Linked DNA regions of Homo sapiens: all the other regions are linked to region 1. The links come from fine-mapping of genetic effects on gene expression. A gene starts in region 1. Each other region holds a variant in brackets. All regions are shown on one strand. Distances are between the middles of the regions.

What was found.
Region 2: its variant is fine-mapped to the expression of NEO1 in whole blood (TOPMed, PIP above 0.99). The same link has a PIP of 0.9 or more in blood mononuclear cells.
Region 3: its variant is fine-mapped to the expression of NEO1 in whole blood (TOPMed, PIP above 0.99). The same link has a PIP of 0.9 or more in blood mononuclear cells.

The regions. Positions count from the first base shown.
Region 1 is chr15:73,047,427-73,058,169 of GRCh38, forward strand. It overlaps NEO1 (neogenin 1), which reads left to right and starts at 5,037. Exons shown (of 29, transcript NM_002499.4): 1 at 5,037-5,379. The coding sequence starts at 5,250. RefSeq lists silencers at 4,157-4,206, 4,267-4,336, 4,427-4,746, 4,977-5,356.
Region 2 is chr15:72,766,756-72,777,498 of GRCh38, forward strand. It overlaps ADPGK (ADP dependent glucokinase), which reads right to left. Exons shown (of 7, transcript NM_001365225.1): 2 at 8,117-8,342; 3 at 5,028-5,090. Among named protein-coding and RNA genes, the nearest start is that of ADPGK-AS1, 11 kb to the right of the region's middle. The variant C/A (reference allele first, on the strand shown) is at 5,648.
Region 3 is chr15:72,969,304-72,980,046 of GRCh38, forward strand. No RefSeq gene overlaps it. Among named protein-coding and RNA genes, the nearest start is that of NEO1, 78 kb to the right of the region's middle. The variant T/G (reference allele first, on the strand shown) is at 5,345.

The sequences.
Region 1 (10,743 bases):
TACATGAATATAATTACAGGATGAATGATGTAGTGTGATTAGATACTTGTGGCTTGGAATAAAATTCCCAGTGACAGCATTATATATAGAGTTAAAAACTTGGGTAGAAGTGAAGATGGTATGTCCTGGGAAATATGTTAGAGACTCAAAATGCGACACTTGTGATGATAAAGACACCATGAAGAATTTCAATAAAATTATTTTAAAGATTATATTTATATAATACGTAATTTAAAGTAAGCATAATTAAATTAATATATTCAATATTATAAATAGAGCCCTGATTATTTCTTTTTTCCCAACTTTTTCTTTCTTATTTAATTTTTTTAACTTTTATTTTAGGTTTGGGGGTACAAGTGAAGGTTTGTCACACAGGTACTCATGTCACAGGAGTTTGCTGTATGGATTATTTCATCACCCTGGAATTAAACCCAGTACCCAAAAGTTATTTTTTCTGCTCCAGTCTCTCCTCCCACCCTCTACCCTAAAGTAGACCCGTGTCTGCTGTTTCCTTCTTTGTGTTCGTAAGTTCTTGTCATTTAGCTCCCACTTATAAGCGAGAACATGCGATATTTGGTTTTCTGTTCCTGTGCTAGTTTGCTGAGGATAATGGCCTGCAGCTCCATCCATGCTCCCGCAAAAGGCATGATCTCATTCTTTTTTATAGCTGCAGAGCCCTGATTATTTCATCTATATCTCTAAAAGTTTATCTGTTCAAGTTGGCCACAAAGTTTTACGGGGGGGGATTGTTTTTGTTTTTATTTTTTGAGGCATGGTCTTGCTCTGTTACTCAGGCTGGAGTGCAGTGGCAAAATAATGTATCACTGCAGCCTTGACCTCCAGGCTCAAGTGATCCTCCCGAGTAGCTGGGACTACAGGCACACGCCACCACACCTAGCTAATTTTTTTTTTTTTTTAATGTAGAGACCGGGTTTTGCCCTGTTGCCTACTCTGGTCTTGAATTCCTGGGCTCAAGCTATCTGCCTGCCTCGGCCTCCCAAAGTGCCGGGATTACAGGTGTGAGCCGCCGAGGGGCCTGGGGGAGTGGGGTGGATTCTAATTGGAAAAATGGAGGCTCACCTTATTTTCAGAAGCACCTTATACTCAGGCATATGTAGTGTATGCTGATGACTCACTTCTCCAGTCCTATCTCCCTGCTAAACTCCAGATCCAAGTAATGAACGGCTTACTGATATTTCTACTCAGATGTATTTAAAGTACCTATGTATGCATAGGTACTTTAAATTTCCTTGTCCAAAGTTAAACTAACATTGTCTCCCATCTGCTCATCTTTCTCATTCCCCCCTCAGTGAATGCCACCACCTTCATTCAGCTTCCCAAGTTGAAATCTGAGTTACCCACATCTCCTATCTCTCCCACACACCCCTGCTGTTTCTATCTATCTCCTAAATCTCTCTCTTATCTGTTCACTTTTCTTAATCCCCTTTGCTTTACTCCAGGCCACCATCATCTCCTCCCTAGACTATTGTAACAAAATCTGAACTGTTTTTTTTTTTTTTTGGTCTCGACTTCTTCCAAACTACACTCCAAGAAGCAGCCTCAGTGTTCCCTCTAAAACGCAAATCTGAGGTCAAATCCCACCTGTAGGCGTGGCTGACTCCTATCTACCTTCAGGTCTCTGTTTAGAGGCCAAAGCTTCTCTAATTCTCCTTCTCCCACCCCCACACACAATTTAGTCAAGTTAGATGCTCTTACTAAGTTTTCCCACACTCCTTATCTTTCCTTACCATAACAGTCTTTACACTTCTTTGTTATAATTGTTTACCCTTTCTGCTAGACTGGGAACTTTGTTTATCTGGCTCATCACTGTCTTCCCTTAACATAAGCCAGGACCAGAGACACAGGATGTACTTTATAAATATTAAATGAATGAACCAATAATTTTGTTATCCCAGCATCCAGCACAATACTTGGTGAAAACAGGTCCTCAATAATTTTTGCTGAATTAATAGATTGTTGTTGAACTAAAGATATGTGATCAACTAAGCAACATGTGACAAGCAAAATTAATATTGAGCATGCTTGTACTTAAAAAGGAGCACACATCCTTTTTAATTACGCTTAATCAGAGATGGCTCCCTAGAGCAGGTGGCTTCTGAAGGAGAACGGGAGAAAATAAAAATTCTTACCTAGTGGAATGTAAAGGGCAAATATAAAAATAACAATCTCTGTGCAGAAGAAAATCACTTTCTTAAGACTGGGGCAACTTCTAGTTGAAGTCTGCTGTGACTAGGAAGTGTTCTATCCTGAGATCTGCTAGTCAGGGGACTAGCTTTCTTCTTCTCAACCTCGGACACTGGGATTCAGCCAGGGAATCAGCTGCAGAATCTCATTACTGCCAGCAGTTAAACACTGAATTGTACGTCCTTTCTAATGTTGAAAAAAAAATCCTTTTACTATAGAGAATAAGATTCCTACCAAGTTTTATATTCATAGGCTTTAATATTTCATGTAATTTTTATATCAAAATACATTAGCATAAATTTCACAAGATATCAGTCTAGTTATTTTTGGCCTGCATTTCGATAACTTTTACAGACACACAATGGCCACTCTGTTTTCTTTGCTCTAAAGTTTCTTTGTGCACTTATTCCTTGAACATGGGCCTCATGTTCTAACTTTACTTAGATGAAAAAACTGTTAATTTCACCAGTGGTTTAATATCTCTTCATAGATTGATAGTTTAGACAACATAAAAGTGTTGATTAGCAGTATACGTGCAGGCTGAAGTATTTGTTGAAAATCTTGTTGGGAGAATAAGAATGATAAAAGAGATGCCTAAGAAAATCTTTTCTCAGATATGCTTTACTAAACAAAGAACAGGTTAATTACTCAATGATGATTTTTAAAGGGCATGTCGACAGTGTCAGTGACTTTGAAACAAAGTAAAGGAGCTGAATTCAAGTGTGTGCCTGAGTTACTTAACTATCTTGAACTGATTTAGGATCTGTAGCTTTAATCTGGGGCTCCATCTACTAGTGGTTTAATAGAGTGGGTTTTATTAAAATTGTGATTTAATCAGAAGCCAGAAATATACAACTGTTTTAAACTTTTTGATATTAACCTGATATACACAGTGGGCTGATAAATTAGTGAGACAGTTCATATAAGTCATATATGAAAATCAGTCTGTTATTAGCCACAACTCATGTATTTTTCAAAACTTGGAGATAAATGTAAGCTTCATCTCAGAAGTCATATTACACGTTATAGGTTTAATATAATGAAATTTTTCCAGACTTAGAAAAGATATCAGGAAATTAACATTTGCAAGGCAATTTACAGTTTTCAAAGAGCTTTTCTCATTAATTATCTCAGAAAACTGAATAATGATGTGATTATTAAAGGTTAATTAAGCAAATACTTGTGAAGTAATTGGGAGGTAATCTATTTCTAATTTAACAGGTCAATCACGGGTATTTAGGAAATATTTTTGCTGGTTAACAACTCTAACCAAAACAAAAAGGTATTTAAATGGTTTCCCTAGTGAAAAACCATAAGCATGTGTTTCCTCTATTAAGTCAATTGTTTCAAAGAACTAGCATGAGAATTCCTAATTTCACCGTTTTGATGATTTAAGGTTTTATGAAGATTCTGAGCTCTTCCCTCCCGACGTTAATCCATGTCTTACATTGTTCATTTTGGCGCTTTAGAATAAAATATCTTTGGAAAGTAACTATGAGAAAGCACAGAGGGATATGTTAGTGAAATAGCCATTTTCTTGTGGGAAGCAAGACATTTCGGTTATCGACTACACAGAAGAGTGAATAAAACCCAACGCCTATCAACCACCAAACGTGACTCTGCTTGCATAATCATACAAATAAATTTTCTTTAAAAATTTTTCATGGGTGCAGTATATAAAATGATCAATAGTCTCATCAGCAGTGGAACTACAAACTGCTTTCTCCTAACTTTGTGTAGCCTGGGTGCTGCCTCACGATTACTAAGTGGTTTAAAATCATATCCCACTTGCTCCTTGGTTTATCAGCGAAAGACGTGATTCCCAGGTAGGAAAACGCCAAGTGTCCCGCAAAGGTACAGGTAAAACGTAGCAGTTACTGCGAGAAGACTGGCCCCGGGGAGTCCCAGGGCTCGGTCGGGGCCCCCGCACGAGCTGAGGAAGTGGACAGCGGGCACCTTTGTCTGTGCCTAGTTCCCTGGACCCGGGCCGAGCGATGCGGGTGGGGGCGCGGTTCGGGCGGGTCCCGGCGCTGCCCGGGGGAAGCGCGCGGCGACGGCGGCCCGGCTTGGGAGCCGGAGGTCAGCGGCTGCGCGGCCGGCCCCCTCCCACGGGAGCCGCGCCAGGGCCCAGCAAGAGTCGGGCGGGATCGCTATTGTTTTTGGCGAGCACATAAATCCCCGGGCCGACCCACTGCGCACCCAGGTTTCCTCCCGGAGGCCTTTCGGTTTCCTCTGAGGCCCTATATAGAGGCTCCAGGCCCGGACTGTGCAGAGGTGCGCGCCCACGCCGGCCTCCCGGACCAGCCTGAGCTCGGAGCGCCTCTCGCCCTCAGGTCTCTGCAGCCAGAGGCATCTGGGGAGGTGAGGGGGGAATTTGTCCCCGAGGCGAGGAGGAGGAGGCGGGGGCGCGCGGAGCCGAGGGGCTGCGGCGAGCGGGCGGGAGGAGCAGGAGGATCCGCTTCTCCGGGGTTTCCCTGACGCCAGCAGCAGCGCCCGGCGCGCGCGCCCCGCACCCGTCAGCGGCTCCGGGGAGAAGGGGGAGGGGAGCGGGCCCGCCACGGCCCGAGAGGCGGCAGCCGGGATTGGAGCGGGGGCGGGCCGCGCGCGGAGCCGAGGGGGTGCGGGCGAGGCGCGCGCGTGCGCGTGTGCGCGCCCGGGACTCCCGCCCCCCGCCCCCGCCCCCGCCCCCGCCGTCCGCGGTCTCCGCCCCCCTCGCGCTGGTGTGTGGAGCCGGAGTCGGCGGCGGGTGGCGGCGCCTGGAACCTGGAGACCGACCCACCGCCCCCCCCCCCCCGCCCCGGAATGTACTGACTCCCCTTCTTCGCTCTCCTCCCCTCCCCGCCCCCTTGCAGGAGGGAGGCGCCCTGGAGTCTCCCCTCCAGCGAGAGGGGCTGCGCGGGCCGGGCCGGGCCGGGCTGGGCTGGAGCAGCGGCGGCCGCGGGAGCCGAGCTTGCAGCGAGGGACCGGCTGAGGCGCGCGGGAGGGAAGGAGGCAAGGGCTCCGCGGCGCTGTCGCCGCCGCTGCCGCTCACTCTCGGGGAAGAGATGGCGGCGGAGCGGGGAGCCCGGCGACTCCTCAGCACCCCCTCCTTCTGGCTCTACTGCCTGCTGCTGCTCGGGCGCCGGGCGCCGGGCGCCGCGGCCGCCAGGAGCGGCTCCGCGCCGCAGTCCCCAGGTAAGCGGCGGGCGCGGGCCCGGGGGTTCGCGGGGGCGCGGCACCGGCTCAGGCGGCCGCGGCTGCGGTGTTTTTGTTTAGGATCCAGGAGGAAACGTGCAGGAACTTCTCTGCCTCGGCTCCGGTTGCCGAAGAGAAAGGGGATCGCGCGTGGTGGGGAGGAGAAGGGCGAGAGGGGGCGCCACCGGGGAAGGGGCGGCTGCCGGGGGGCAGGTCGGGGGCGCAGGGGTCTAGTTCCCAGCTTTGTACCTGGAGGCAGGTTCACCCCTCGCCTCTCTCCCCTCCCCCAGGCTCATCCCACTTGTAAGAGTGGGACATTCTTGTGCTCACACTAGCACCAGTAGAGGCCACTACACACCTCATTAAATAAACAATCAGACGGCCAATTCATTAATTTTCAGGAAAGGAAAGGGGAGGGGGCTTGAGCTCCTGGTTCCCTGGCCAGGGATTTCCCAGCTTCCGAAGTCTCGAGGAAGAGCTGGCTAGTCTCGAGGGACTCCTCGCGCGGGGATTGGAGCCCGAGTCTGCGGAAGAGCGGGGGTGTCAGAGGGGCACAATTGCCCGCTCACAACCCCTGGTGTTGATTTAACGATGAGGACGCCTTGGAGAGCGGCTCGGAGTGATCGTATCTGTTAGTGTTTCCGTTATGAAATGCCTCTTCTTTCCTGGGGATTACAACTATATTTACAGCCTATTAACCACTCTTAACCAAGGGAATTGTCTAAGCATCAGATTTTAGGTACTTGTACAATGTTTTCAGATGGCATTGTATAAACATTGAACCTCAAAAGCCATTTTCAGTTCTTTTTTGGAATATTATAGATTACTGAAACCACCTGCATTCCTATTAAGGGGACCAACGAACAAAAATGCCAAGCCTTCCGGGAAGGACCTTACGGTATTGTTGAGCAGGATACACTCAGCAGTTGAAAGGCAAATTAGCATGTAATCTGTTAAAATTATTTGACCAAGGTGGTGTACCATAAAACTTGACAAAACTTTCACTCGTGTGAGATATGATATTTTTACATTTGAAAGCAGTCTTACCGCTGAACCAGTACTTGTTTTTCCCTGATTTATATGAAATAATATTTAAAATCACACTGCAAGGTAACTTGACTGATAAACTTTTCATTTCCTTGCAGAGTGTGTATGTAGCTCATGGCTTTTGCCAATGTTAAAGAACAGCTTTAAACGTAAAGTACCACTCGGTATTCTCTAAACAGCTACGTAAACAATAGTGTTTTAATGTCAAATTAAACATCACTTATGTCATGATGTACCCTTATACATTCAGTCCGTATATGGTTTAGAACACATTTTGGTGCTGAAATGCAGGTTACTGATCCAACTGTCTCTTAGATGAGCAAGAGAAATATAACTATTTTGGAAAACAAGTTCCTGTTACTCATGATCTATTTTATATGGAAATTCATATGTAGTTCACCAAATTTCAAGTTTTTGTTTAAAGTTTTGCCGATAATTTTGTAAGTAACTAAAATGCTAGTAATTTTATTACTTAGGATAATAAAAATAATGCAAGCAGTCTCAGGAAGTGGTCTTAACATCTGTTTCAACATTAACTCAATTGACAGGTTTTTATTTTGCACAGATGAGGTGCAAGGCATATGCTCTCTGCCTTCATGGAGTTTACAGTCTGGTGTGTGGGTAGGAAAGATAGCCATCCATCTACTGATTATATAATTAAGTAATTGTGATAAGCACTACAAAGGAGAATAGGTTTTCACAAAGTGGGTACTGGAGTGACATAACCTAGTCTGGGTGTTAAGAGTGTCTCACAAGAACTGAGATCTGAGGAGTGGGTAGGAGTGGAGGTGGGGAGGCTCACAGGTAATTAGTCGTTTAATTGGGTCTAGAACATAGATCTCCTGATTCTCGGTCCAGAGTCCTTCCTGTAAACCGCTCTGCTTCATTACAAAAGCGAGAGGAATAACTGCAATAAGGAGGGGTTGGTCAGTTCTGCCATAAAACTGCGGAAGAGATCAAGAGACTGGAGAACTGAGTAAGCAGCAACTGGAACAAGCTGTCCGCAAATCAGATGTCCTTTGTCAGTAGTTTTATTTTTTTTATTTTTGTAGAGTGATAGACTTATAAATCTTTTTATAGGGGATTATAGTGAATAGATTGTAGGGAAGTGGACATGTTCAGTAGTAGAAGGTGGAGAAAAATAGAGATGTGGGACAATAGGATAAATGGAAAGTGTTTTTCCATCTGAGGTTATAGACATACGGAGGTGGAGGAAAAAGTAAGAAGTAAAGGACTGGTGATAGAAAATGGTCAGCAAGGGAGGAGGGTTGGAATTGAGTAGGAACATAATCTGGTATTCTGAAAAAGGGCAGATTACTGAAAAGATATGTAGAGACCTTGGGGAAGATGACATGGCAGCAGCCTGTGCAATGCATGTCTTCTCTATTTAGAGTGAACATTCTTCACCGAGGACTCTGTAGCTTCTGCCTGAACCATTTATTTCATGATGTGATTCATTGCCTTACAGGGTAGTCCATTTCTGTGTTGAATAACTTCTGTTAGAAAATGTTGCTTTGTACAGTACATTTCACTGTAGTTTTCACCCTCCCCACCCTTCTTACATTTTTTCCTCTTTGCTTACCTTTTTCAGCATTACTCTATCTTCAGGTTAATCTCTTCTCTGATTAATTCTTCATTTGTCTTTCTGGCTTTTCTTGAACTCACTCACTTAAATATTAGTATCTAAAGCTTATCTCATTATACATACTCTGTTTGCCCTCAGTTGCCACCTGTAAGCTAAGGACTCTCTTAGTCCACACTTTCTCACTTGCCACTCGGTACCTTCACTAAATAGGATCTTAGGTTACTGAAGTCCGAAGTTAAACTCTGTGTCATTTTCCCTCGTGCTTCCTTCATCCCCATTCTCTAAACATGAACAAACCAGTTCCTGGCCCCTGTGTCTCATGTTGTTGGAAGGATTGCATGGATTTGTCTTCTTGTGTTGCCTGTCTTGGTCATCACTGTTCATCCACTTGCCCAAGCTGAGATCAAGAAGACCTCCTCTTCCCATTGCCATAGCGGATAGTTCTTTTTGCTTTTTACCTCTCAGCTGTTTCTTGACTCTGAATCGGTATCTTTTCATCTTCATCCCCACCTGGACTAACAGTAGTGGCTCCATAATTAATCTCTTTGTCTGTACTGTTACCCTCTAGAAGTCTGTCCTGCTAGAATGAGCTTCCTGAAATATTTTCCTGAGCATGCCACTCTCCTACTTAAAATCTGTTACTAGTGTTCTGTAGCTTGGGTGTTAGAACTCTTTGGCATGGAGATTGTGAGGCCCTTTGTATTCTTTACCTCTGTTCTCCCAAACCCAATAAAGCCTCATCTCTTGTCACCCCTAACATGCACCTTGCATTCCACCACTCCAGATTAACGACACAGCTTCAGATCTCCGTGCCTTTGCACATGCTGTTCTTTCTGTTAAGTCACTTCTCACCTTGTCCACTTCTGAAACTCCTTATCTAGTCAATGAATTTTTCTCTACCAGCTTTCTCTTCCAAAGAGAGTTATGGTCACTATTCTGTGTTCCCATAGCTTCCTGAGTACTTTTCATCTTCTGTTACTTATTTTCTTGTCTTTTCTGCTAGTCTCAACCTCTGAAGGGGTTGGCCGGGTTGTCTTATTCACCTTTGTTTCCCTAGTGTAGCACTAACATGTAGCATAGAGAAGATAACCAGTAAATGTTTGTTGACTGAATGTTGAATTGCCTTTGTTTTTAACCCGTAGGGCCATACAGCACAAATCTGATTCCTTTATATGATGGCCCTTCATGTGTCTAATCACATTTCCTGTGTGCATGTGTGTGTGGGCCCCCCCTGCCCTTCCCCTCAAACCTTATCCTTTTTAAGTTAACCATCCTTAATTCCTTCAGCCACTCTTCACATTACTTAGTTTCCAGATCTTTTGTGATCTTGGTCATCCTCCTGGATATGCTGTAGTTTTAGCGTTTTTTTAGTTTTGTCATCTTTGGAAAGATCTTTGATCTTACTGAGTCATCTAAAAGAAAAGACTGATGGCGTTGCTCTGCCTGTCTGTTAGAATGAGGCACAAAAGAGATCATAGAATTCTGGGATGAATGCTCAAAGAAGATAAGAAATATGACTGATTTTCATAAACTGTATGAAAATTAATACATGATGTGAGATAGTGAAAAGACATACATGAAGGCAGAGGATATGGGGTATGACTTGTGGTTCTGCAACTTCACATACATCTGTAAGTTGGGGGATATAGGCAGGCAAGAATAATACCTTACCTACCTAACTGGATTGTCAGAAAAATAAAATGTAAAATTGTTCATAAACTATAAAGTACTGTACCTATGTAGAATGGCTTCAGTGTTTCTTTGTGAACTCTAAAAATATACTATATTAAATTATTTGAAAGTGTAGACTTTTTTTTCTTTTGGCTTAATTGATCATTGCTGGTTTCTTCCTTATGAGTTTTTCTCTACCTCAATGAAAATATTGGGGTAACCTTAATAAATCTCATTATATGGAGGCTGTATTTAATAGTCTTTTTTCCAAACACTTTATTTTATTAGTGACTTCCATGTGATTGGGAGCTATTTACCATATCATTGGTAAGTGTTTAGGTTTCTGGGTAAAATTGCATCAATAATTGGAGAACAGTCAGAGGAAATGACTGTAGGTAAGATCATATTGACCGGAGAGCTAAGTGAAGTGAGGAGAAGTTTTGTGTTTACGATTTTGAAAAATTAACTTTGTCATGGACATAGCTAGTGAAAGATGATTTTAAAATAGAGCTCAAATTTTGGATTCATTTAGAATGAAGAGAGTTTTTTTGATTCAAAAATTTTGTAAATAGTGACAAAAAAAGGCATTCAGACCCACTGGTATGATTTTGGTATATTTCTTTCTACTTACTGCCTATATGGCACATTATCTTTTTACATTGTAATCATGGTGTATGTATAACTTGAAATGTTTTCCTTTGACATTATACCATTTTTCTTTGTTGTCACATTATCTTTAAATCATTTTATTTTAAAAACTTATTTAAAAATACATAAATATATGTTTGTTTGCAGTCAAACAATATAAAAATACATAGAATAAAAGATTTTATCACTTCTACCCACAAATTCCATTTTTGAAACCCATAAGTAACCCCTTTTAATATCTTCCCTTGCATGTGCATATGTGTGTATGGTTTTATTTTTTTACAGATAAGCAGGATCATACTACCTATTGTTTTTTCAACTTGCTTTTTCACTTAGTATGTTGGAGATCGTTCCATGCCAGTACATACAGATTTTCCTATAACCATTATTTAAAATGTGTGTGTAATATTCCA
Region 2 (10,743 bases), 280 kb before region 1:
GATGTACAGTATAAACCCTAATGCAACCACTAAGAAAAAAAGAATTATACCTAATAAAGTCAGAGAAGATAAAATGAAATCATAGAAAATAATCCAAAAGAGTACAGAAAAAGAGGGACAAAGATAGAGATGGGGCAAACAGCAAACAAATAGCAAGATGTTAGATTTAAACCTAACCTGATATATCAATAATCACATTAGATGTAAATGGTCTAAACACTCCGATTAAAAGGCAGAGATTGTCAAAGTGGATTAAAAAGCAAGCCCCAACTATACGCTGTCTATAAAAAATACACTTTAAGGTAAAAAGATGCAAATAGATTAAAAGCACAAGGACAGAAAAAGATATACCATGCCAATACTAATCAAATGAAAGCTGGAATGGCTATTTCAATCAAAATAGATTTCAGAGCAAAGAATATTATGAAATGATTTTATTTATCCCTAGTAATGATAAAGGAATTAATTCATTAAAGGGATGTAACAATCCTAAACATTTATGTACCTAATAAGAGTTTCAAAATACATAAAGCAAAAAGTTACAGAACTATAAAGGAAATAGACAAGTATCCAAAATTACAGTTGGAGACGTCAACATACCTCTTAATAACTGACAGATCAAATAGACAAAAAAAAAAAAACCAATAAGAATATAGAAGACTTGAACAACACTATCAATCAACTTCATCTAATTGACATTTACAGAACACTCGACCCAACAACAGAAAGGCTTATGTATATTCTTGAAGCTTTCAAGTACACACAGAACCTCACCAAGATAGAATATTCTGCACCATGAAAAAGGTCTCAAAAACTTAGTAGGATTCAGGTCATAGAAAGCATATTTTCTGACCATACTGGAATTGAAATAGAAATCAGTAACAGAAAGACATCTGGAAAATCCCCAAATATTTAGGAACTAAATAACATACCTCTAAGTAGTCCATGAATGGGCTATTAAATGGCACATCTCAATAAATCAAAGGGATATTAGTATTTTGAAATGAATGAAAATAAAAATAATCCATCAAAATCTTTGGGATGCAGCTAAAGCAGTACTTAAGGGGAAATTTATAGCACTAAACCCCTATATGAGAAAACAGGAAAGGTCTCAAATCAATGATTGTAGCTTCTCACCTTAAGAAACTAGAAAAAGAGCAAGTCAAATCTGAAGCAAGCAAAATCCAATGAAAATAGAAAAACAGAGAAAAATAAATTCACCAAAAGCTAATTACTTATTAAAAAGAGCAATAAAATTTATAAACCTCTAGCCAAGCTGATCAGGAAAAAAAAGAAGATACAAATGACCAATATCAGGAATGAGAAGGAAAACATCATTACAAATTGTAGAGATCTTAAAGGAATAATAGAATACCATAATTAACTTTATGCCAATAAATCCAACAACTTAGATGAAACAAATTCCTTGAAAGATACAAACTACTAAAGCTCATTTAAAAAAAAAAAAGGAAAATCTGGATTTCCCTATATCTATTAAAGAAATCAGTTATTTAAAATCTTCCTACAGAGAAAACCCTGGGCCTAGAAGGCTTCACTAGAAGGCTTAAATTCTATAAACATTTAAGGAAGATACAATACCAATGCGACACTCACTCTGTTTTAAAAATTGAAGAAAGGGCCAGGTGTATTGGATGAATCCAAGCACTATGGAAGGCTGAGGCAGGTGGATTACTTGCAATCAGAAGTTGGAGACCAGCCTGGCCAACACAGTGAAACTCCCTCTCTACTAAAAAATACAAAAATTAGCTGGGCATGGTGGCACACACCTGTAGTCCCAGCTACTCGGGAGGCTGAGGCATGAGAATCACTTGAACCTGAGAGACGGACATTGCAGTGAGCTGAGATCGCCACCACTGCACTCCAGTCTGGGCAGAGCGAGACTCCATCTTAAGAAAAAAAAAAAATTGAAGAGAAGATAGGTGTGGTGGCTCACACCTGTAATCCCAGCACTTTGGGAGGCTAAGGCAGGCGGATCGCTTGAGGTCGGGAGTTGAGACTAGCCTGGCAACATGGTGAAACCTCAAGTCTACAAAAAATACAAAATAATTAGCTGGCTGTGGTGACGTGTCTGCAATCCTAAATACTCAGGAACTCGGCTGAGGTGGGAGGATGGCTTGAGCCCAGGAGGCAGAGGTTGCAGTGAGCCGAGATCATGCCACTGCACTCCAGCCTGGATGACAAGGCCAGATCCTGTCTCTCAAAAAAAAAAAAAAAATTGAAGAGGGGGAAACACTTTCCAACTTATTCTACAAGGCCAGTATTGCCCTGACAGCAAAACCACAGACATTACAAGAAAAGAAAAATACAGACCAATATTATTCTTGGGCATTGATGTAAAAATTTTAAACACAATTTTAGTAAACTGAATATGTGAAAAGGATAATGAATACATCAGAACAAAGTAAGCTTTATCCTAGAGATGCAAGGTTGGTTTAATATGTGAAAGTCAATATAATTACCATATATCAAACTAAAAAACAAAAAACCACACAATAACCTCAGTAAATGCAGAATTTGACAAAAGCATTTGACAAAATAAAATAACTATTCCTAATTCTTGCCTAATTCCACAAGTATATATTTTTTTGAGATGGAGTCTTGCTCTGTCGCCCAGGCTGGAGTGCAGTGGCGCAATCTCGGCTCACTGCAACCTCCGCCTCCCGGGTTCGAGCGATTCTCCTGCCTCAGCCTCCTGAGTAGTTGGGACTACAAGCGCCTGCCACCATGCCCAGCTAATTCTTTGTATTTTTAGCTAAGACAGGGTTTCACCATGTTGGCCAGGCTGGTCTTGAACTCCTGACCTCAGGTAATCCGCCTGCCTCGGCCTCCCAAAGTGCTGGGATTACACAAGTATATTTTTTAAAGGCACGGTTCCTCTCCTGAAATTTGGCTTCTATTCTATCATTCCACTAAACCTGCCTTTACTATATTCACCAGCGTCTATTTCAAAGATGCAATATAGCATGGCTATTAGGAGAATGGATTCTGAAGCTTGACTACTTGGGTTCAATTCCCACTCTACTCATTATCAGGTATGTGATTTTCACCAGTTTTAACTTCTCCATGCCTCATTTTTCCTATCTGCAAAATGGGGATAATAAAAAGACTTCCCTTATAGGGCCCTATGAAGATTTAAATTGGTTCATACACATTTAAAGCACCTAAAACTTAAAACAGTGCCTGGTATATGGTAAAAAACTATAGAAGGAAGTGCCAGCTATAATTACCACCTCTGGAAAATACCTAGTTCTTAATCTCTGTAGTTCTCAGATGATCTCTCAGTCCATGTTGAGAAGCATTTCAGAAAGTTAAACTGAGTCTCTTTGAGAGTGCATACAGGGTGAAGTAAAGGCAGAGCCTGACACTTGAATCCTGACTCTATCATTTACTAGCCAGGTGCCCCTGGGCACCTTACTTAGCCTCTCTAGACCTCTGTCTTTGAAATCATAAGACTGTTGTGAGGATTGAGTAACAGAATGCTTCTCTTTCCTCAGTCTCCTACCAAAGCCAGACCTGTTTTATTAGAATGCCTTCCAATCAGACTGGTCCCAGGACCAGCTACTCCAGAGACCAAGAGCAAATGCTGGTCCCAGGGGAGGTCAATACTGAAAGGTCAATCTTGTACTCAGCCATGACCGTCCTGGGTATTGTCTTCCCAGAGGGCAGAATTATTTCTCAGGATCAGGAGGGTGGCTTCTTAGGAAACCATGAAAACTCCTGGGATTCTGATGGGAATGGCCTGGGCTCTCTCTAAAGGGCTTATGATCAATCTCCTTTTCTTCCACCCATTAGCTGGTAATATTTCCAAAGGTCAGCCCTGGAATTTCTAATCTTCTCTATTTGGGAGTTAATTACAATTTATAAACATAATGACTGCAAAAGTCTTTATTTTCTTTTTATTATTCTTTCTTAAAAGTATTTTCTACCCTAATATTTCATGAGAACTTTGATTCCTATTAAAATATGAATGTTCACATTTTAATATCCTCTCTAAACTGAAAGCACATCTATCTCCAGGTGTATAGTGTGGCTCCATATGAATTTTTCCCTGAAACTGCTGATGACCTATCCGTATTTCTGAGTTCATCTCTGGCTTCTGGTTCCACCACTCTGACTCACATTTCTATTTTTAGGCTGGTCCCCCAAAACTAGAAGACTGTTCACAGTCTGTTTTCTAGTGTTAGCGGCCACAACCATTCTGCACTGATCAAGGTTATTTACTCCATAATCATCTTTGATAAATCTCTTCTTTGTTCCCCATGTATTGTAGTAGGTTTTAGATACATGTTTCTCCTCTCTGGCTGCTCTAATCCAAACCTTAATCATTATACAGGAAAACAGCGATAACTTTCTTGTTGGCCTCCCCCTTCAGGCCTATTCTACTCATAGCAAGAGAAACTTCTTACTCAGGTGTTACTGTGAACATGGCAACGATTTTTAATTCTACTTAAACCAAACAATTTAAGTCTTGAAGACACTCCCCTACTGACTCTCATCTAGTGGCTTTTATTTTTTGGCACTCTGGATCCAGGCTCACCAACACGGCCAACCGTTGTTTTCCCTCATGACTTGTATAATCCTTAGTCTCAAGGCCCACATGCTCCTAACTATTAAATGATATGGTGCCTAAGAACATGGGTTATTGGGTCAGACTGCCTGGGTTAAATTTCTCATTCCATTACCAATCAGTTGTGAACCTCTGTGTGCCTCAAGTTTTCTCATGCAGAAAGGAAGAACAATGGCAGTACCGACTAGCCTTACAGGGTTTGTTGCAAGGATTAGATAATCTATGCAAAGCACTAAAGACAATGTCAGGCACAGAGTAAACACTCAAAGTATTAGTTACTACTATCTCCTACTATTACTGCTTCCTAACAAAAGACCCAGGGTCTGGTACATAGTAGGTGATCCATAAGTTGAATCAAGGAATAGATACTCATTCTTGCTCCTAAAATTATTGAAACACTAGGGAAAGGCATAGGTTTTAATCTAAAAACTTGACCTACCTTTAAATCTGAGTTGGCTGCAAATTTCTGTCCAATTAAAGCTGCATTTCCTCCTACATAGTGCTGTAAGAGAGTTCAAGGCTTTTAGACAGTATTTTAATACAACTATATCACCCAAGTTTAATCATTTTTTATTTTAAAAATTAATTTATAGTCCATTTCCCAAAAACATTTTGAGGTGATTTTACATCAAAGGACACACAGATGAAGTGAATGCAACACAGAAATAGAAAGTGAGTAATAAGATGAAGAAAATAAATAGGACAACCATGAAAATGAGTCTGATTGCTTTAACTGTTGATCAAATTCAGCTCTGAGCTTACAGACAGCCAGAAGAGACACAGGAAACAGGAAAAGTGTGGACAGGGCTTATCGTCTACATTATAGTCCTTCTAAAATGAAGAAAAATTTCACTATCCTGTGGAAAAATCATTCAGTAGATACTATAATGAACTAAAATCTAACTCTTGAGTGAGGCACATATGGCCTTTATCTAACCCATGTTTTCCTTACTACCTTCATCTCCTGCCCTTCCCTTCCACACCCTGCTTACAGCTCTCCAAGTCAGCCTTCCCCTGTCTCTGTGCCTTTGGCACATGCTGTTTCCTTCCATTAGGACA[C/A]CCTCCCTTTCTCATATACTAGGTAAAACCCTGATCACTTTCCAAGAATCAGCTGCAGTGTCACCTCTTCTGTAATGCCTTCTCTGTTCCCCTTACACCCCACTGACATCTCAGCCTTCACAACCGCCCTCACCAGATAGGATTACAGATCTCTTCCTACCCCTATAACCTGAACAAACCTCTAATGCAGCTCTTGTCTGCTTGGGCTACTATCATCTGGGTACACAACTAGGTCCTTCGGGGCAGGGACTGTCTTCTTCTGAAGTGTTCAGTAAATGTTTGTTGCTAAATTTTGAGAAACGAAGAAACACACTGATGTGTTGGGAAACATAAAAGTTTTCCTGGGAGTAAATTCTAAAGATAATGGGCCCCTAATATAGGACAGTACTTTCCCTTAAACACCACATCTCTCAGCTGAGGACCTGGAGAACAAATAATTCAAGGTTGGTGTTCCATGTTGCTAAGGATGGATCCATATGCCTTGGAAATCTGACACATAACAGCTAAGGCTGCTGTTCTATTATAAAAGTTGAAAAGCCTGATAGTGTTACCTGGGTGGAATGCTACTATCCCAGCTTCCTAGTCCTCAGCCCACGCAGAGGCATAGACTAAACCAGGGGTGTCCAATCTTTTGGCCGCCCTAGGCCACACTGGAAGAATTGTCTTGGGTCACACATAAAATACACTAACAATAACGACAGCTGATGAGCTATTAAAAAAAAAGGGTGGGGGGGAGGTTAAATCTCATAATGTTTTAAGAAAGTTTATGAATTTGTGTTGGACCACATTCAAAGGCATCCTGGGCTGCAGACTGGACAAGGTTGGAGTAAACAATTCTAGATGGTAGACATCACTCTTATCCCAATTTTGTGCTGACTAACCTCTGAATTCAGGTGGGACAGTAATAGCTTTTTAGAGATAATTTAAAACTTTCTGTGATATGTAGGCTGAAATTTGGCCCTTTAACATGTCAGCCTTAATGTTTTATTCAACCACGATAGTTAGAATTTACTAAAAAAAATCTTGGGAAAATAGTAAGATATCTACAAAGTGGATTTCAGAATTTTCATATAATGTTTATCAACCTGCCTTAAACTATAAGGAAGTATGAAAAGGCACTCCTCTAGTGAAAGGGGTTTTACAATGTTAAGAAATAACCTGGACCATCACAAAGCTAGATCAAGTTGCTGTAAAAATTTTTTTCATCAAGAAATAAAGGCAGAATCAAGAGAGAAGAGAAATCAAACTGGTGGTTTAAATTCCGTAATCATAAAGACTTTTGAGCAGTGAACTCATCATGTTAGAACTATCGAGATTCTCTCATAAGAGATAAGAATCTCACTACTGATCCCAGTTGTCAAAATGATAACTGAAATCTTAACTTGCTGTCACCTTTAGAAACTCAGCTAGGTAATGCCTATGTCCATTTCTAATGTTCAAATAGGCAGCTTCGAAGACAAAAAACTTATTTTTAAAATTTTTTTGAGACAGGGTCACACCCTGTTGCCCAGACTGGAGTGAAGTGGCACGGTCATGGTTCACTGCAGCCTTGACCTCCCGGGCTCAGGTGATCCTCCCACAGGCACATGCCACCATGCCCAGCTAATTTTTTGTATTTTTTGTAGAGACAGGGTTTCACCATGTTGCCCAGGCTGGTCTCAAACTCCTGGGCTCAAGCAATCCACCTGCCTCAGCCTCCCAAAGTGCTGGGATTACAGGCGTGAGCCACTGTGCCCGGCCTAAAATCTTAAGTCATCAAAATAAAAGTAGTCACAAAGGTTTGCCTGTGAAAGGTGCCAATTAAAAATGGCATTAAGAGCTTCCCTGGCTAGAACTACCAAACCAGACTGGGTGCCCAGCCAAAGGGAGGTTTAAATGAGGAGGAAGAATGGGGTGGGGGCAAGACATGGGAGATAACCAACCAACCAAAACTCAGCCTCAAGAGGCATGAGGGTACATGTAGGAGCAGGCATACTGGGGTGAGGTAGGAAGAGCCATGGTTGGGTCTCCAGCCCCAGCACTGCCTCTTATTCCACGTGAACCTCCAGGAAGTGCCTGGACCATGCAGGGCTTTGTATATAATCACCAGGTGAACTTGGAAACCACTAAGGTTCTAACTTCGACAGGTTCTACCTTGCAGACCAGTGGTTCTCAAAAGGAGGTTCTCAGACCTACAGGATCAACCAGGAAACTTGCTGGAAAGGTAAATTCTTGGGTCCCATCCCACATCTACTGAATCTGAACTCTGGTAGTAGGCCCAGAAATCTGTGTTTCAACAGCCTCTCCAAATGATTCTGACACATGCTCAAGTCTGAGAACCATCAACCTAGACCCACAGTTTTCAACCAGGGGTGATTTTGCTCCCCTCCTCTTCAAACTGGAATGAAAAGTTGCTTGCTTGCTTCTAGGAACCATATTAAAAAGGCATCTTTTTCCACCCTTAATTTACTATTGCTGAACCAAACAGACCTGGGCTCCTGGGAACTCTGATGCAACCTGGGCAATGTCGTGAAAAGTTTCCTTATCACTGAAGAAGCGCTCAGCAGCTGCTCCCTTCCCCATGAAGTGAATGAAGGCTTCTTCCAGATCATTCCTTGAATGCAGAATGCTGTGATCTTTCCCATTCCCAGGACTAAGGCCAAGTGCCTGCAAGAGCTTCACCCCTGAGAGCACCACATCAACACATGCATTGACTCTAGAAGGAGGAAAAAAACTGTGTGAAAGCAGCAGAAGCACCAAGTAGCCATTTTGCATTTAACAAAAGGAAAATGTTTCTCAGAACCTTATTCAACAGAAAAAACAGGAAGTAGGTCTGAAACCTGAATTGGGAAGTAAACAGCACATGGCAGGAGAAAAATTACTTTAACTGGATTTATGTATTAGCATCAGAACACAGGACTCTTCAATAATTTGGCAAACTTTTACACTAGTTACAAAGTGAGAAGATAGGTGCTTAGCATTTCAGAACAAAGCTACTGTAACAAAAATGTAACATTTCTGAGAAAAACGCTGGCAGAGCCAAACAGGATTCATGCTGGCCGTGTGACTTGGGCAAGTCACTAATTTCTCTGTGCCTCGGTTTCCTCATCCACAAAATGGCAATAATATGAGCATTTAACTCATAGAGCTATGGTTAAGATTAAATAAGTGAATGTATACTTAGGAACAGCAATTGGCGCAGAGTAAGCAAAATATGTGTTTCAGTCAAAGGCTAGGTATCAGGCATCTTCCCTCTAAAAACAAATGAGGATGGTAAGATACAATAAATTCCTAAATGCCTGAGTACTCCCAGCTGAAACCCTGCCTCTTAGAATTTAGTGGTGTTTTACAGACTTAGGCACACCTGCAGCATTTTAAGAACTCACCCTTTGGCCAGTGTTCACAGGACTGACCCATGAACGTTAAAGACCTGCCACTCCTGGTTGTCTCGATGGAAATTATAAAGTACAGGTTGAATCCCTTATCTGAAGTGCTTGAGATCAGAGTGTTTCCGATTTTGGAATATTTACATATACATGAGATATCTTGGGAATGCAACCCAAGTCCAAACACATTTCATATATACTTTATACATACAGCCTGAAGGTAACTTTATACAATGTTTTAAATACTTTTGTGCATGAAATAAAGTTTCTATTCCTTACGTGTGGGTGGAATTTTCACATATAAGTACTTAATATACATCAGTGGCATCATGTCAGTGCCCCAGAGTTTTGGATTTCAGAGCATTCTGGATGCTCAACTTGTACTAAGGTTGTCTGGCATGACCTCTCCTATGTGTGTATGGAGAAAGTCTGTCTTACATTTTCAGGGTTTCTTTGCTAAGTCATCCCTCTTTTAAAGAGAACGTTCAAATAATTAAGGTAGCTAGATGAGGTCTTCCCGCCCCTACCCCTATCATGGTCATCTTTATTCCTGCCTCTGCCTATTGGGATGTCATTCTGGCCAGTGAGGTTGGATTACCACACAGGCAGCTCCCAGCCGGCAAACTGAGACCACCCCTAGTGATACGGGTGACTGGGCTTCAGAGTTAATTCTGAGCAGCTCTGAAACCACAAGGTAAACTCATTAATAAAAATGTCCCAATGGATGAGATTTTGGTGTAAAATACATAGTTGTATTTCCCTTTTAGTCTCTTTCAAAAATGAAGAGGAATGAGACTGGGATGAAGAGGAATTTTACCAGGTATATTTCTACTTTTAACATGCTTGTATTCCTTTTAGAATTTTTAAAATGACATAACTTTAAAAAGGTTTGTATGCAGACTAGATATTATTTACATCACTTAAGGAAGATTTACAAGGGCAAGGAAGAGACATCCTCCCTCAAGACACAAAGAGACTGCATCCTCATTATAAGGGTCCTTTTTATTAATTCTTCCCCTAGGGATTCATGTTTTGAAAGGAGTTTTGCCTATCAAATAGCATTTAAATACTCAGTTTCTTGTTCAAGACACACATAATGACTCTGGTCAACTGGAGAAGCATAACCTAAGATTTACTATGCCTTTCAGTGCATAAAACATCTAGCTACTGTATTTGGCCCTTCTCTTTAAAAGAGGGATGATTTCTAGTAAAGAAACACTGAAAATATAAGCCAGAACTTCTCCATGACACACACAGAAGGGGCCATTCTGGACATGCACGTGGCAGTTGCTTAAAGATATGTTTAAAATCTTTCCTTTCACAACCTTCAATGTTAAGAAACCAAACACACCTTGCAAACTGGTCTCAATTTTACCTCAGACATGGTGCCCTTTATTTCTAATGAATGCAACATTAGATTGGTAGAATCAACAGGAATACAAGTATCTGTAGCTCTCAGACGCCAGTAGGTTCCTAAGTTTCAGACAGTGAGGGCTTGAGTAAGGAGGGATACCATTTCCTCCAGACAGCCCAGTCTAAAAAAATTGTATCCAAATGGATTTGGGTCCCGAGTCTGAAGAGTAAAGGTTCAGAAATGGAGGGAAACCTGTCTTTGAAAATAACTACTTCAAAAACTATAAACACCCTCAAGCCTGTAATCCCAGCACTTTGGGAGACCGAGGCAGGTGGATCATGAGGTCAGGAGTTTGAGACCAGCCTGGCCAAGATGGT
Region 3 (10,743 bases), 78 kb before region 1:
CTGTGTCTCTAAAAAATAAGGACATTTTCTTTATAATGATATCATATCCAAAATTAATAATTTGTAAATATATAACACCTACACGGTACTCAAAGTTCTTCAATAATTCCCCAAAATATCCTATTACAGCTCATTTCCTTATGCCAGCTTTATTCCTTGACTGAATAAAGGATCAAAACTACATTCGGTGATTAGGTCTTTTAAGTCTCTTTTGATCTAAAAATAGCACCTCCACTCCTTTTTGCTTTCTATGACATTGACTTATTGAAGATACAGCTGTCCCTCAGTATCCATGGGTGATCAGTTCCAGGATGCCTGAGGATACCAAAATCTGAGGATGCTCAAGTCCCTTATATCAAATAGTGTAGTATTTGCATGTACCCTACACATATCCTCCCATATATGTACTTCAAATCATTTCCAGGTTACTTATAGTACTTAATACAATGTAAATGCTGTATAAATAGTTATTGTATTGCTTTTTAATTTGCATTATTGTTTTTATTTTTAGTATTTCTGATGCAGAGTTGGTGGAATCCACAGATACAGAAAACTGACCGTACTGTAGAATGTCCCACTTTTTTGATTTGCCTGATTGATTTACCACTGAGGTGATGCCTAACAAATTCCTGTCTCCCCTGTATTTCCCATGAGATGGAAATTAATTCTACAGTCTTGATGTGATTCAGGTAAAACCTTGTTATCCAGAAAACCTCATAGATGATGCTATGTACTTTAGCACTGTATCACACAAGGAGGGATGTCATGTCAAGTTGGCCTATTATCAGTGACACTGGGCTTGATCACTGGATTAAAATGGTGATGGCTTGCCTGATCCCTTTATTGCAAAGTTAAGGGTTTTCTCCTCTTGGAACTAGCAGATAAACTGGGGCGGTAGTTGATGCCCTGTAAATATGTAGCTCACCATTAACCTCTCACCAGCTGATCTTACAACCACTGATGGTCTTTGCCTGAATCAATCATCCCATAGGGGTTGCAGAATGGTGATTTTCCAATCCCATCATTCCTTCTTCACTTATTAGCGTGCACTCTTCTGTAAAAGAGCTTTCCTTCATCAACTGGGCTATTTAGTTACCCTGAAATATATAGCTCCTAGGGAAAAGACAGGTTATGTACTCGTAACTCTTTCCCCTGCATAACCCATTTTTAAAATAAGTTATTGGTAAATAGCATATTTTAAATCCTGGGGTAAAAAGGTTTTTCTCTCTCCTCTGGCTCCAATAATTGTTTTAGCATGAGCCTGGGAAAGGGTTTGGGGCCAGAAGTGTGAGATTACTTCCCATTCTGCTTAGTGGGAAGAAATCACACCTCCCATTTTACCCCCTCTATGACTCAGATTCCTTCTCAAGTTAGCTGATCCTAAGTCCTAAGATTAAAAGTTACGGTTTCTCAGCAGATCCTGGTTATATGATTTATAAATTTGGTGCTAATCTTTCCTCTGTCATTGGAGGTATCTCATAACATGATTTTTCCAATGCTTCCCTAGGAAGAGTATTTATTCCACAAACTGATGGAATTCAGTGGCATGTATTTCTCTCTTTGACTGCAAATTTTATTTTAAGCGTTCCAGTGAGAACTCTTAATTCTGAAACCTCAAATCAGAGTAAATAACTCCCCTCCTTCTCACTGACTACACCATTTACACGTGGCTGGGCCCACTGCTAGCATAAAACCTCAACTCTCTGCCCAGCCGAGCAGCATACACTGCTCTGAGCTCTTTAATATGTCCTCATAAATCCAGCTCCTCTCACTGCCCTCGGATTCCCTGTACCTCTACATTTCCTCCCCAATAACTGAGCTCAGCACGGCTGCAATGTGGTGCTCCCTTCCTGAAATCAGATGCAGAGTATTCTACCCTCTCTTTGACCCCTTTGCCTCCATGCTGCAACATAAGCTCCCATCTAATTGCTGCTCTGCCTCTCTCAGCAGAACCTGACCTCTTTCTGGGTCCCTCTCTTAAAGCAACTGTCTGTGTTTTTCATTATGTTTGCCAAGACATATTATCTTGAACTTTTCCCAGATGAAGCTCGTTTTTTTACTTTTTCTTCAGACCCCTGAGGTGGCAGGTTCAAGAATGCAGTCTTCAGAGGGAAGCTTTTGGTCTAGGAGGCTTCAGCCAGGACAGTTCAGTTAATCATACTCTCCCTCCGGGTACTGCCCCTTTAAGAAGTGGACAGACTCTGGTTCCAACTCCAAACCTCAGTTAGAAGTTCAAGCCACAAGACGAACACACATGTCCTGCCCAGAAAGCTGCCCAGCCTTGCTGTTGACTTTCTCCTGACAGCTTGTCATCCACATACCCATCCCACGCAAACGCAAACATATCCTTTTAAACATCGAAGTCTCAAAGCCTCCCCCATGAAAAGGAAGTTGAAAGTCAAGTTCCGGGCACCCTCGGCTTCTGTAGTTTGACCAGTAACCTGGTAAGAAGGGGCACCTCCTTTGACAACCCGAGTGTGCCCAACAATGCCAATGAGAATTCTTTAATGATCACTCGGAAGATGTCATCTCTGTGTCTCAGCGAATCCTTCTCTTAAAAAGAAAAGCACTCATGAGACTGGAAGAAGAGGGGGAAAACTCAGAGTGATAAGAATGCTAATCAGAACGAAGGGAATTTTCCAGCTTTTAGCTTTCCTAGCAAAAAAAAAAAAAAAGGCATCTATAAAAAAGTGTTGGAAGGCTTTTCTTGCAGCCTGGGGCCTTTGCCAGGGAACAGATTTCTCTCCCTCAACTCAGTTTCTTCCAGACCTTTTTCCTGTGCATTCTTTTTTCTTTCTTCTTCTTTCTCTTCTCTCTTAGCGGAGCCTCCTCCGGCTGAGAAGTAATCTGTGGGGAGCCCGAGGGGTCTGTACTGTTCAGGCCCTGGAAAGAGATGAAGGTAACTGCCTGCTGATAGGGGCACTGCACCATTTGGGATTGCAGTAGGGAGACCCCACTCCTCAACTGGAGGGATTCATAGAGGTCACACCCAGGGCTTCCTTGCTGCTTTTTCTGTCACCTCCCATGCTGTTTTCTTCCCTTCGGTGTAAGCCAGCCCTCTCTTTTTGTGGTAAGATGACTATGGGAGTCCCAGGCTGGAGGCTGACTCTTTGCACCCACTTCCCACACTTGTTTCTGACAAGTCTGATCTGTGTAGCTCAGCACATCCAAGGACAGCCTTCCCCTTGGCTTCGTTGTCCAGATGCATGACCCCAATGGCTTTGTAAATGAAATGGTATAATCTCAAGAGGCTAGCCTGCTGTAGAGAGAGGAATAAATAAATCAATATGTAAATAAATCCACAAGAGCAGAGGGGATGTACCGGGACTTTGCAAAACTATGATGAAGCATTTTAGAAGATGGATATTGCTGTATTTCTGGTGAGCTCTGATTGAAAGGCTATGATTCCAGCCATGGGCTGTAGGAGAGGGAAAGTGAGCTGTGACGGAAATTCCCTCATGGATTGATTTGACTTAAATATATTCCAGGAGCTGATCTAATTGCTGGTTCAGTCTTAGGCTTTGATTTTCCTTCTCACAATTCCCTGCATTTCAAATAGTTTTTATTAAGGGGCCTGAGCTGCCCTCAGTCCTACTGAGAATCTTTCTGGATATATGACTAATTTTTTTTATTTATTTATTTTATTTTTTATTTTTTTGAGACAGAGGCTCGCTCTGTCACCCAGGCTGGAGTGTAGTGGTGTGATCTCAGCTCACTGCAACCCCCATCTCCTGGGTTCAAGTGATTCTCCTGCCTCAGCCTCCCAAGTAGTTGGGATTACAAGCACACACCACCACACCTGGCTAACTTTTGTATTTTTAGTAGAGACGGGGTTTTGCCACGTTGGCCAGGCTGGTCTCGAACTCCCGACCTCAGGTGATCCACCTGCCTCAGCCTCCCAAAGTGCTGGGATTACAGGCGTGAGACACCATGCTTGGCCTGTGACTGATTCTTCTGAGAACACAGTACTAGAAATACTGCCCTTGGTCAAAGGAAGAACCAGACATTCCCCACCTGAGAAGGAGAAGCATGCTGGTAATTTCCAGGGGGACAGGTAGTTAGTTATTCTTATTTTGAATCAGAAGTGCTGGTGGCAGCCTCTTACTGTTCAGACTCTGAGACATATTGGTTTGGGGGTACAGTCCAGGAAAAGGTGGGAGGAGAACTTCCAATCAGGTGAGTCTTATGCATGGAAGGCCCCAGACACTGACCCCTGGAGTCTGACCCCTTGATCTTCTCATCAGTTCACAGCCCTCTACTCCACCCCTGCTGCCAGTCTCCTCTGCCTGACCGCCTGCCTTACAATCCGATTTATATTCTCTTTCTCTCTCTCTCTCTCCACACACTTCCTCCTCCTCTTCTTCTGGAAAATTTCAAGCATATACAAAAGTAGAGAGAATAATATGATGCCCCCTTTACCCATCACCCAACTCCAACAATGGTCAACTCACAGCCACACTTTTTTTGAGATGAAGTCTCGCTCTGTCACACAGGCTGGAGTGCAATGGTGTGATCTCAGCTCACTGCAACCTCCACCTCCCAGGTTCAAATGATTCTCCTGCCTCAGCCTCCTGAGTAGCTGGGATTACAGGCACACACCACCACGCCTGGCTAATTTTTGTATTTTAGTAGAGATGGGGTTTCACCACGTTGGCCAGGCTGGTCTCGAACTCCGGACCTCAGGTGATCCGCCCTCCTCGGCCTCCCAAATAGACTTATTTCAATTACATGCCCAGCTGCTTTTACCTTCACTCCTTACCTCTTGCTCTACCTGGACGATCTTGAAGCAAATTTCAGATATCATGTAATCTGTAATTAGTTTAGCATATAGCTCCAAAAGATAAGGACTCTTTTGGATATAACAATTCCATTATTATACCTAACAATAAGAATAATTCCTAATGTCTCCAAATATCTGGCCAGTGTTAAAATGTCCTCAGTGTCTCCATTTATTTTTACATTAGTTCAAGTCAGGATCCAAATAATGTCCATACATTATAATCAGTTTATGTGGCTTTAAGTCTTTTCTTCATATAGGTTTTCTTTTGCTTTCAAAATTTATTAAATAAACTAAGTTATTGAACTATAGTTTCCCATAGCCTAAATTTTGCGGATCACCAGTCCCTGTGGTATTTTTTTAACACATTCCTCTGTCCCTGTTTTTTAATTGGTAATTAGATGACGAGATTTGTTGAATTCAGGTTTGATTTTTTTTTTTTTTTTACAATAATGCTTTATAGGTAGTGGTGTGTTCTTTCATCAGAGAGCATATAATGTCAATTTTGTGTGTGTGATATTACCAGCCTTTGAGTGCCATTGTCTAAATCTATTTCATGTATATCAT[T/G]AAGTGTTATAAAATAGTGACATTCTATCATTCTCTTCATTTATTAGCTAGACTGCTTCTATAAAGAGAAATTTCCTCCATTGATCAATTGGTCACCTTTATATCACTTATCCCTGGGAAATCTTAGGCCACACAGCCAGAATATGAAAGTGCTTTGTGGCCAGTGTCCCTCAGACCTCAAGGTAGATTCTACAGGAGGAAACGGAGTTACCCCTCAACCTTCCCTGGGCCCTCTGTGTTCACTTCTTCAAAGATATTTTAAAATCCATTTGCCAGCCAAGATATTGGCCCTGCTTCAATGCAATATAGGTTTTGCATTTACCAATGGGAAAATCTAGATAAATTTGAGTAACTCAGAAAACATTTCCATTCAGTTGTTTTAGAAGCCACCCATGCAGAGTCCAGAGCTGCACCTCACACCGGTGTAGTGTGGCCTATCTACATGATGCTTAAGCCATGTAGGTAGGAACCCACACTTCCAGGGCTGTCCTACTGGTTGCATGATAAAGAAGATCTATCCTCCGTTTTGAAGGTACTCAGTCTTGATCCTGAGGAGGAAGAAAGCAGAGAATCCTCCATGCAGAGAGGTCTTCACCAGCTAAGGACAGCAGTGAGGCCAGAGCCCAGCTGCTCACCTTGTGCCACCATCCTTGCCCACTGACCATGATGGCTCTAGTTGCAGCACCACTACTGCTCACACCTGCCCTGGAACAACAGTCCTGCTACCCAGGATTCCTTGCAACTGTAGAGAATTGTAGGCTGCAGCTGGGTGATTTCACAACTTGCTTGCCCACGCCTGATGGGGGACACAGAGGTGAGTCTTCTCACACAAGCTGTCAGTAGTCTACTCAAGAGTTGTCAGGAATGAGGGAGACCCACTCAAGCAGATAATATCAAGCAGCGAGGGCTCTGGGACAGGGACAGACCAGCCACTTGCATCTGACGAGTGAGCCACAGTAAACTGACCAGTACTGCAGCCACACACTCAAAAGCATCACTGGCTATTGGCTGCATCTGCTATCCAGCCCAAGCTGGGACTAGGGTTGCCTCACTAGGTGTATGAGGAGAAGCAGTGGCAGGAGTATAGTAGCTTCTTTATTTTTCCACCCAAGCAGGCAACTGCAGAGAGAATGCAAGGAGGGGTATAGAGATGGGCACAACCCCCCTTTGAATGCCATCATGAAACATGGCGCTTGGGGACCCAGTCAGGTGGGCCTTGTGTCCACCTATAAGAAACATAGGGAAAGGAATTAACCAGCTGTACTAGAGCCTTTTACCTACCACCTAAATTTCCTCTCTGAGCCAGAGAGTGTTTCTGGCTTCTCACCAAAATGCAAGGAGATTTTGGTTAAAATCCATCCCATTCCAAATTTGTGAGACAGACTCTGGTTCCATAGGCCCAATACACCACCTGCTTCAAATGGTCGTAGTCCAGGTGGTTGTATCTGCCAAGCACCCACAACAGCAGCAGGGTAATGGGGAGTGCTGGTGGAACCTTTCACCTATAGGATGCTTGGAGTCTTACCTGTGGAGTTTAAGGCGGGTGGCAAGGGTTGGAGGGGAGGCATACATGAGAGCTTGGTATTGTTGCTCACCTTATGTTCATGTTTTTATTTCCTGCTGATAATTAGATGTAGCTGGCATGAGTCCCATAGCTCTGCCAGCTTCACTTCAGTGTCTTGGTATCAATGGGCCATGCAAATACCCTCATAGCCCACCTGGATAGGAACCACGCAAATTTGCAACCTTTGAGCCATATTGGAACAGAACTTGTCAAGTATAAGGCTGATTTCCAGAGGCTCATACCCAGGTTTGCAGGAGTTCAAAGGCATATCAATTCCTTGCCATTTCCCGGGGACTTTCTTTACAGTGAGCAGCTCAGGATGAACCAGGCCTGTCAGGAGCCAACATGGTGATGATGCAGGGCTGCCATTTGCTTCTACCTGACACTAGCATTTGGATCAGCTCAGATCATTCCTAGGACATACAAAAGTGGCCCTGGTGGGCACACAGCCTCCATTCATATCAGGAATTAGTAGAAGACAGTAAGTGCAGTGATTATTAGTGCTATTCACTAAATATTCTCGGTTCTCCAGGCTCATGGTAAAATTGCCTTTCCTGATCCCATTGGGTTTGGGTGGAGCCATCTGCTAGCTTTGCCAACGAATTGTGAGTAGAAGTGACAGAAGTTATTTCTATGCCCAAGTATTTAATTGCTGGGCAAGACACTCCTCTGCTGACCATGATCTCTCTCTGTCCCTTTGACATGACAACTGGTAATGTTTGAAATGGCTGCTACTCTGTCAACCTGGGTCTCAGAGTAAGGAGCACAGAGGTGAGCCCTTCTGACCCCCACTGGATGAGTAGCATTACCAAATAAACCTAGTTTGCTATAAGCGGCCAAGATTTGAGGATCATTTTTATCACAATATAAGCTAGCCTATACTGACTGGTTCAACTGATCAGACATGCTTGGGACAAAGCAGCTGTTTAGGATGACCTTGAAACTATACAGCCTTCTTGAAGTTCCAGGGTCTGATGTAAGCTCCTGTATGATCTCTTGGATCTGGAGCAATTATCCACTTTAATGACACATCCATCGACTCCCTGGCCTGGCTTCCTCCAGATATTTCTGAGGCCTCGCACCCCTCATGATGCCCTTCATACTCTTAGAGCATGAGCCAAGGTCAATGATAGGTCTAGGAAGCCCAAGGTATGGTAGACAAAATAATGTCCTACTTCCCACCAAAGATGTCCATGTCCTAATCCCCAGGATCTGTGAATGTGTTACCATATGTGGCAAAAGGTCTTTACAGATGTGATTAAGACTCTTAAGATGGGGCGATTATCCTGGATTTGGGTGAAAGAGGGAAGCAGGCATGCCAGAGTCAGAGAAAAGAGTTGAAAAATGCTATGCTGCTGGCTTTGAAGATGGAGAAAAGGTACTATGTGCCAAGGAATGCAGGTGGCTTCTAGAAACTGGAAAAGCCAAGGAAACAGATTCTCCCTTAGGGCCCTCAAAAGGAATGCAGCCCTGCCAACGCCTTGGTTTTAGCCCAGTGAGACCCATTTCAGACGTCTCACCTCCAGAATTGTAAGATAATAGATCTGTGTTTTTTTAAGCCATTAAATTTGTCATAAATTGTTACAGCAGCAATAGGAAACTGATACACAAGAGAAAACCTTCTCCTGTTACTGAATACTTTCAGGAGACCGTTGTGACCATCAACCAAACTTTCCAGAGCACAACATGCACTTATTGGAGCCCCCTGAAACCCTCAACAACTGCACCCTGACAATGTGGCCTATTAATAGACCCCAATTCCTGCAGTGAGTATGATAGAGATTCTTCTTTATCCACCATGTTTGAACCTTCTGTCCATTGCTCATCACTCTCAAATCATTGGAGTTCTTGAACCAATGTACTGTGTGTCTTCCTTATTGACTATTCGATTTCAACCATGTAGTAGACACCAGTAAATATTAGGTAAATATGAATGAGTGAATAAATGCCATGAGGAATTATCTGATAACGTATGTAGCTCTGGATGATCTGTTGAAAATCTCCAGCAAGAAACACACCAATCTGAGTTATACACAGCAAAAAATTAAAACAAAATAGCAAGCGGATACAAAAAAAGGATTTAGTGCTTTGCCCACTCGCAGTTTCGTCAGGTGCAAACACAATCTGTATGATTCTCCTTAGTTGGCTGATTCTTTTGATTCCTTCTGCCGTGCCTGTTGTCTTTGTGTGTGTGCTTGCAGAGGGGGGTTTCTGACAGTGCAACAGATCTGTCCTCCCCTGGGCACCTGCTTCCTCCAGCTTATTCAAATTTCACTCATTTGTTAGAAAAGTAGCATGATTTTGTAAGCAAGGATGTTCAGTGGGACGAGAATGAAGCATACAAACTCATATCTTTGTGACTCAAATATAGTTTGATTCATTCATATTTATTCCAACTCTGCCACTGAATAATAATTATGAAAAGAGTTACAGTTTGTGCTGCCGTTAAACAGTATTTTGGGGCCAGGCATGTTGGCTTACACTTGCAGACCCAGCACTTTGGGAGGTCGAGGCGGGCAGATCATTTCAGTTCAGGAGTTCGAGACCAGCCTGGGCAACATGGCAAAACCCCATCTCTATAAAAAATACAAAAATTAGCCAGGCATGGTGGAACATGCTTGTAGTCCCAGCTACCTGGGAGGCTAAGGTAGGAGGATCACCCGAGCATGGGAGGTCAAGGATGCAGTGAGCTAAGATCGTGCCACTGCACTCCAGCCTGGGTGACAGAGTGAGACCCTGTCTGGAAAAAAAAAAAAAAAATTGATGAGGTAAAATCCCATTTTAACAAAAATAAGCATATCTCACTTAACGTCAATAATCTGTTCCTGAAAAACAGAAGTTCTACTCTTAAACACTGATCATTATTTTAAGGGGGAATAATGCATTTCGTGATGACCCAAAACTCTAAGATAATTTCCCAAAACATAATTGAAACATGGCAAAACGCCTATATACGTAACAACTATCAGCTTCGTATGTGAAATGCTTAAAGCACTCTCTAATCAAAGTTTTAATAAAAATGGATCTCACATGTAAATGAAAAACTTAAACTTATAAAAGTTCTGGAAGAAAACACAGAAAAAAATATTTGTGACTTTGGCTTAAGGAACAAGTTCTTAGCAATGATACCCAAAATATTCAACCTATAAAAGAAAAAAATTGCTAAATTGGATTTCATCGAAATTTGAAACCTCAACTCTTTCAAAGATAATGTTAAGAGAATGAAAAATGATAAACTGGGAGAAAATATTTGCAAATTACATATCTGATAAAGGACATGAATCAGCAATATACAGAGAACTTTCAAAATTCGATATTAGAAAATAATCCAATGAAAATAGGCAAAAGGGATAAAAAGACTTGATCAAAGAATACATATGCATAACAAATAAGCACATAAAAAGACAGTCATCACATCGTTAGTCACTGGGGAGATGCTCTTTACCTGTATTAGAATAACTAACTTTTTTTTTTAAGTTTCGCTCTTGTCACCCCGGCTGGAGTACAGTGGTGCGATCCCAGCTCACTGCAACCTCCGCCTCCCAGGTTCGAGCGATTTTCCTGCCTCAGCCTCCCGAGTAGCTGGGATTCCAGGCGCCCGCTAACATTTTTTTTTTAAAGCTGAGAATACCAAGTACTGATGGGGATAGGGAGCAACAGGAATTCTTGTTCATTGCCTGTGGGAATGTAAAATGGCACAGCCACTTTGGAAGGCAGTTTGGCAGTCTCATAAACAGACAATAATCACGTGATCCAGCAATTCTCTCCTAGTTATCCAAAAGAAGTGAAAATTTATGTTCACACAAAAACCTGTATATAAATATTTATAGTGACT